Linked DNA regions of Homo sapiens. The protein of the gene in region 1 interacts with the protein of each later gene in a pairwise test. Each region holds a gene or a part of one and is shown on either strand. Other genes may lie near its edges.

What was found. Proteins that work in one complex are often made in the same cells at the same time.
Region 2: the proteins of MYOZ2 (region 1) and MBLAC1 interact in a two-hybrid assay, tested with the Homo sapiens proteins (one large-scale study listed by BioGRID).

Annotation. Positions count from the first base shown.
Region 1 is NC_000004.12:119,163,313-119,166,963, reverse strand, and holds part of MYOZ2 (myozenin-2), read right to left. Parts: intron 2,754-3,651; coding exon 2,570-2,753; intron 1-2,569.
Region 2 is NC_000007.14:100,125,344-100,129,023, reverse strand, and holds MBLAC1 (metallo-beta-lactamase domain-containing protein 1), read right to left. Parts: upstream 2,058-3,680; 5' UTR 1,960-2,057; exon of another isoform or gene 1,853-1,959; intron 1,657-1,852; 5' UTR 1,629-1,656; coding exon 828-1,628; 3' UTR 529-827; downstream 1-528. UniProt on the Homo sapiens protein: Endoribonuclease that catalyzes the hydrolysis of histone-coding pre-mRNA 3'-end. Involved in histone pre-mRNA processing during the S-phase of the cell cycle, which is required for entering/progressing through S-phase.

The DNA of each region.
Region 1 (3,651 bases):
AGGGAGGCCCAGGAAAGGGAGAGAGATGGGGGAGTGGCTGGTCATTGGAGCACTCAGAACACACACAACATGTATTGATTAAGTTTGCCTTTTTACATGGGCATGGTTCATGACATCCCAAAAACAGTTACAATAGTAACATCTAAGATTGCTGATCACAGGTCACCATAACAGATATAATAATAATGAAATCAGAATATTGTGACAATTACCAAAGTGAGCACATGATGTTGGAAAAATGGCACCAATAGACTTGCTTGACACAGGGTTGCCACAAACCTTCAATTTGTGAGAAAATGCAGTATCTGCCAAGAAGAGTAAAGTGAAGTGCAATAAAACGAGGTATGCCTGTATACTGTTTAGTTGTTTTTTAAGTGGACTTCTAAAGCAATGCACGTACTAGACAATGTCTTAAACTTTGTGTATCCCTGTGCATATACTTTTTTTTTTTTTTGAGACAGGGTCTCTCTCCCATTGCCCAGGTGGGAGTACAGTGGTGTGATTATAGCTCATTGCAGCAGCCTCAACCTCCTGGGCTCAAGCGACCCTCTCGCCTCACTTTTTGAGTTCTTACTATGTTGTGCTGGCAGGTCTCAAACTCCTGGGCTCAGCTCACCTTGGCTTCTCAAAGTGCTGGGATTACAGGCATGTACCCCAGCCTGTACATACGCACCTGGCCTACATACGCTTCAAGGTTAGAAAGGATCTTACAGCTATCTGTTTGGGCTGTCTATGTATCATATCATGTTTTGTTTCATCCATTAATGTTATTTAATAATAAGAAGTCTAAGAATATACTATCATGTTGAAAGAATTTAATTCCTAAGTTTTTATTTCTACGTTGATGTAGATATGCAAAGGAATAAAATGTTCTAAAGTAAAAGAGAAGTATTAGCAGATTAAGTTTTCACACACACACACACACGCACACACACACAGCATGTAATATTTGCAAAAGCTTTGATTAACACAGGGAGCTACATTTCCTGTTGAATGGTATTGTGCTCACTGATATAGTACTCACCTGGTATTTATACAGTCAATAGGCATCTCTTTATAACTAACCCAAATATTACCACACCAGTGTGTGTAGAACTACAGGCAAGCTGCTCAGCAGGTACAGGGCACCAAAGCCACAAGATACAGAGAAGTCTTACAGCATGTCTTAAGCACTTAATCTCAAAAACAAATCCGAGTTATTCCATTAATTTCCATTTTCCCCTAATGTTTTACTTGTTATAATTTTCTACACTCTCATTTTGAAAAAAAAATTATAACATTGATCAGAATGGGCCTCCAACTTTCTTTCCCTGCCACTCCTCAACCCCTCTTTAAATTCTATGGTACACCTCTTTCATGCAAGGGATGCATTACTAATAATGGTAGTGTGCAAAAACTAAAATCTTAATAGTACAATATTTATTTTTATTTATTTTATTTATTTATTATTTTTTGAGACAAGGTCTCACTATTTGCCCAGGCTAGAGTGAAGTTACATGATTTCAGCTCACTGCAACTTCCACCTCCTGGGCTCCAGTGATCCTCCCACTTCAGCCTGCCAAGTAGCTGGGACTACAGGTACATGCCACCACTCTTGGCTAATTTTTGTATTTTTTGTAGAGACAGGGTTCTTGCTATGTTGCCCAGGGTAGTCTTGAACTCCTGGGTTCAAGTGATCCACCCACCTCAGCCTCCCAAAGTGCTGGGATGACAGGCATGAGCCACCACATCCGATCACTTAAGAAGATCACTGTTTAAATGCAGTCTATTTGGCATTCTTTTTTTAAATAAAAAAATTTACTCATTAATTTATTCATTTTTAAATGAATGGTTATTAAGCTGCCTATAAATTGAGTCTAACTTTTTTTGAGTGTGAGACAGCATACTAGATATTAGATATTTTAATATTTTACTCTAAAATGAAGGTCAAGTGATCAAATAATGGATTATGAGACTATTAAAAATTCAAAATATCCATGGAAATTATAAAAACTGAATAACAGAGAAAAATGGATGCCCATTCTATAAACTATACTACAGATATCATTTGGTGATATTTTTGATAGCATAAGTTTTGGGTTGTACCTCTTCTGGAATCTTGGGCCATTAAGTCTCTAAATTACTTTTAATCTGTCCTAAAGCCTGCAAAAATGTAAGATAGAATCTGGAGTTACACAGTAATTCTCATAGCCTTGCATGTGAATTATTTATTAAATTCTTGAACAGTATTGCCATTTGAAACAATGCATAAACCCAGATCAATCTTTGGATTTGAAACTATTATTAAAATAACATTTTTAAAGTATCAAGGGATAATCTTGATGTTATACCAATGATAGTTTCTGAATCATTTCCTTCATTTTTATACTAAAAATGACCAAGTTTGAAAATAATAGTAATATTACAAAAATGAGTCTTTGCCTAGGCTTAGAAGATATCCTATATTGCTATTTAGATTCTTTTCTCAAAAGAAAAAATTGCTTTCTACCAGGGAATTCAGTTATCTGTACCATGATGAAAAAATTTTGGTATTGCATGCCAACAGTGTCACCCAGGACCATTGAATTACCTGTTAAAGCTCCTGTAATCAGGCAGTTCTGCCTTTCCTTCAGGCTTGAAAAGTTTAGGATATAAAGCCTCTAAAAGCTCCGGATCATTGCTAATGGCTTGTTCCCAGGGAGATTGATAGTACTTAGGGACAGCTGTGGTGTTGAATTTTTCAGGAGGAATTTCCTTCAGTGGTCCAGAATATCCTTTGGAAAAATATAGCAAAAGTAAGTAAATACTGTGCCCGAGAGTTACTAACCTCCACCTAACATTTTACCATGTTTGATTTTTCATGCTGGGATAAATTTATGAAGCATGCATCCTTTTCATGATCCCTTAGAAAACAGCAGTCTGCAAGTGTTAGACATTTTAGAGCTCCTGTAAGCTTATGGAACTTTAAAAAGAAACCATTTTTCTTAATGTTTAATTTTTCCAAATTATACAGTTTTTTCTTGACTGTCTTAGTATATATATTTTTCCAGTAAAACTGTTCATTTAGTTTTCTAAAAATTGTGCTCCTTGCATTAATTCACACTAGACTTTAGATACCACAATTAATTAATTTAAAAATGTTAATATTGAGTGCCTATTGTAGTCTAAGGTAGGGGAAATCGCAATGCAGACAAAATCTCCCTCCTCCCAGAGCTGATTCTTTAGAGGTGATGTTTGGGTCTTGTCTGTCTTCAATTGCTGAGTGCTCTGTAAAATGTTTGAGCTTCAAGAAGATGAAGTAACTTGTTCCCACGGCCTTATTCAGGCCCAGCTCTTCTTATCTCCCAATGTACCCATCCCCTTTTTATTTTGTTCCTCAAGATTTCTTACCTAGCTTTTCTGCTTCTGATCTCACCTCCCCAGTTTATTCTTCCCATAACAGCTGGGAATTTTCTGTAAATACTGTTTAAAAGTCACGGAAATTCTTGGCATAGATCTTTAAACCTTTTTCACATGCATAGAGTGACACTCTTCCAGTTTTCTAAGGCACAGTTATCTACTTTCTGTTTACACTGCCATATTACCTAGTTATATCCCTGCAATTCTCTCTTCCACCATGTCAAATCCCTTTACCACTTGATGACTTCTACTTTTAGATTTCTCTGATGCTCT
Region 2 (3,680 bases), on another chromosome or scaffold:
GCCAACATGGTAAGACCCTTTCTCTACTAAAAATATAAAAATTAGCTGGACATGGTAGTGTGAGCCTGTAATCCCAGCTGCTGGGAAGGCTGAGGCACAAGAACCAATTGAACCCAGGAGGCAGAGGTTGCAGTGCAGTCTGCAGTACAAGATTGTGCTATTGCATTGCAGCCTGTGGGGACAGAGTGAAACCGTGTTTCAAAAAAAAAAAAAAATTAGTGGGGCATAGTGGCACTTGCCTGTCATCCCAGCTACTTGGGAGGCTGAGGCAGGTGGATGGCTTAAGCTGGAGGCTGCAGTGAGCTATGACTGCACAACTGCACTCTAGCCTGTGTGACAAAAAAATATGAACAAATACATAAGTCAGGTGACTAAGGGGTCATCTTTATGCCCTGTACCTTCTCTCAGCAACCTCCATCCTATAAGAAAGGGGCAATTGGCCAAAGTATGCCTCTGCTGTAGTTGTAGATTACCATGTTTGCACGATTATCATTGTCAATGCTTCACATTTACACTAGGGCACTATGATTTTCAATGCAGTTTCCATTTTTATTTTGGAGGCCCCTCCCACGAACCTTCTCCCATTTTACTGAGGCCCAGGGAGAATGCACAGGGAGCTGAGCCCCTCCTTTGATCTTAGTTTGGTGGCAGAGACAGGCAGTGATACTGACGATGTGATGGCAGTGTCAGGTGCACTCTGTCTTCACTAGAAAACTGGCCTCCTGGAAGGGCTGGAAGCTCCCACCCTTGACTGCTCTGACTCTGTCTCCAGCAGCTCTTCGCTGTTAGGGCTTCCCTGACAAGAGTGCAGTCCCTCTCGAGGCTGATTAGTGCAGGGCGGGCTCCTCGTCTCCGACCACCGGCTCCTGCTGGCTGTTCCCTCCACCCTCCGTCTCGGGCTGCGAGGCTTCCCTTAACACTCGAAAGGGGGGCCCGTGACCAGGTACGACCACGTCGGCAACGACCAGGACCCTCTTCCGGCTCCGCTCCTGGGCTGCGGGGTCTTCACTCAGTGCCTGCCACGAATCCTCGTCCCCATCTCGCTCAAACACATCTCCCGCCACCACCACGGTGCCCAGAGCCGTGCCGGCCACCACCACGCTCACGTCGCGCTGGCCCCCGTGGCCCGGCGTGGCCCACACCTCGAGCCCCGGGCCCAGGCGCAGGGGCTGCCCCTCACCCAGCCCGTGGGGCAGGTAGCGGCCTCCGGGAAGGCAGAAGTCGTGCGAGACCAGCAGAGCCGCGCCTGGGAACAGCCCCAAGTTCCCGATGTGATCCGAGTGCCCGTGGGTCCCCACCACTAGCGTCACGTCTCCCGGGGCCACGCCCTGCCCCGCCAGCGCCCCCAGCAGCGCCTCCCGAGCCCAGGGGCCCCCGGTGTCCACCAGGATGGGGCCACGGGCCGCCTCCTCCAGGGCGGCCTCTGCGCCGCCACTCCCGCGCGGGGACTCTCGGTGGCTGGAGGCCGGGCCCCGGGTCTGGGGTAGGACCAGGGTCACGGAGCCGTCGGCGCGCACGGCATCGCCCACACCCTCTGGCTCCGCGTAGCCCTGCAGCAGAACCACCACAGAGTAGGGGTCGCCGGGCACCAGCAGAGGGGATGCCCCGCACAGCGGCTCGGTCCGCATGAGGCTGCTCCTGGCAGGGAGGGACGGGCTGGGGAGAAAGGAAATGGAGCAGTGGGCGACCGTCCTGTCCCTCCGCGATCCCCCACCCGCGCTCGGCCCCGCCACTGCCCCTAAGCCTCGGTTCTCTGCCACCCGCCTCCCATTAAGTTGGTATCACCCTCAACCCCTGCCCAAAATGGTATCGCCCAGACTCCCTTCACACTTGGGCCCGCCCCTCCCTCGGCGTCCTCGGCCCCCGCCCCATTCCGTTCGCGGTACGTACGTCCTTGCCCGTCACCCTCCAAAGGCTATCCTTTATGTTTCCCTCCATCGAATCCTAGCCGCGCTCTACCTTGGGCCTCTGCTAGGTCTTGCCTCACTCGAAGAAAGCGCAGAAATCGAAAACGCGGGTGAGAGTTTGTCCTCTGCGGTTCCCGTGTACCCAGATATGGCGGCCGAAGCGGCGCCGCGGAGGTAGCTGTAGTTCCGGCGCCTTCACCGTGTGCCCGAGGAGGCTGCCTGGCTGGGCTCCAGCCTCCTGGCGGTTCTCCGCTCCGCAACCCCAGCAACTTCTTTGCACTGCAGAATTTTGAAGCGCCATTAGCTTTGAGGAGGGTTCATGCTCAGTTGCCCAGGCAGGAGTGCAGTGGCGCGATCATACCTCACTGCAGCCTCAACCTCCTGGGCTCATGTGATCCTCCCGCCTCAGCGTCCCGAGTATCTGGGACCACAGATGCGCACCACCAAGCCCAGCTAAGGTTTCTATTTTTTCTTTCTCTTTTTTTTTGGAGACACGGTCTAGTTCTGTTGCCAGGACTGGTCTGGAACTCCTGGGCTCCAGCGATCCTCCAGTCTTGGTCTCCTGAAGTGCTAGGATTACAGGTGTGAGCCACCGCGCCTGGTCTTTTTTTCTTTTGAGACAGTCTCGCCCTGTCGCCCAGGCTAGAGTGCAGGGGCACCATCATAGCTCGCCCCAGTCTTGAACCCCTGGTTCTAGCGATCCTCCTGCTTCAGCCTCCTGGAGTGCTGGGAATACAGGCGTGCACGCCCCTCTAAATTTTTTTTGGTTTTTTTTGAGACGGAGTCTTGTTCTGTCGCCCAGGCTAGAGTGCAGTGGCGTGATCTCAGCTCACTGCAACCTCCGCCTCCTGGGTTCAAGCGATTCTCCTGTCTCAGCCTCCCGAGTAACTGGGATTACAGGCGCCCACCACCATGCGTGGCTTTTTTTTTTGAGACGGAGTCTCGCTCTATCACCCAGGCTGGAGTGCAGTGGCACGATCTTGGCTCACTGCCAGCTCCGCCTCCCGGGTTCCCGCCATTCTTCTGCCTCAGCCTCCCGAGTAGCTGGGACTGCAGGCGCCTGCCACCACACCCGGCTAATTTTTTGTATTTTTAGTAGAGACGGGCTTTCACCGTATTAGCCAGGATGGTCTCGATCTCCTAATCTTGTTATCCACCCGCCTTGGCCTCCCAAAGTGCTGGGATTACAGGCGTGAGTCACCGCGCCCAGCCGCCCGGCTAATTTTTGTATTTTTGGTAGAGACGAGGTTTCTCCATGTTGGCCAGGCTGCTCTCGAACTCCTACACTCAGGTGATCCGCCTGCCTCGGCCTCCCAAAGTGCTAGGATTACAGGTGTGAGTCACTGCGCCCAGCCTCCAGGCTGGTCTTGACCTTTTGGACTCAAGTGATCCTCCCATCTCCACCTCTGCAGTAACTGGGACTACAGGCGCTGCACCACCAGCCCTGCAGTCTTCTTTGTGTGTGTGTGTGTGTGTAGAATTGGGGTTTCACTATGTTGCTCAGGCTGGAGCTTGAGCTTAACAAGACAGCGGCCATTCTGGGTGCTGCCTCATCGACCAGCTAGCTATGTGTGCCCGGCTGTTGTTTGAAACTTTGGGCCCAGCTAGTTTTTAGAAAAAAAGAAAAAAGTTTAATAGCGATATAGAAAATTGAGCACCTATAAAACTATATGGTGGGCTCTGGGTTACATTGAGCTTAAGTAGACCAAGTATCTATCCCACCTAAATTATCAGCAACTCCAGGCCATGACCCAGTGTCCCATTCTCCTTCAC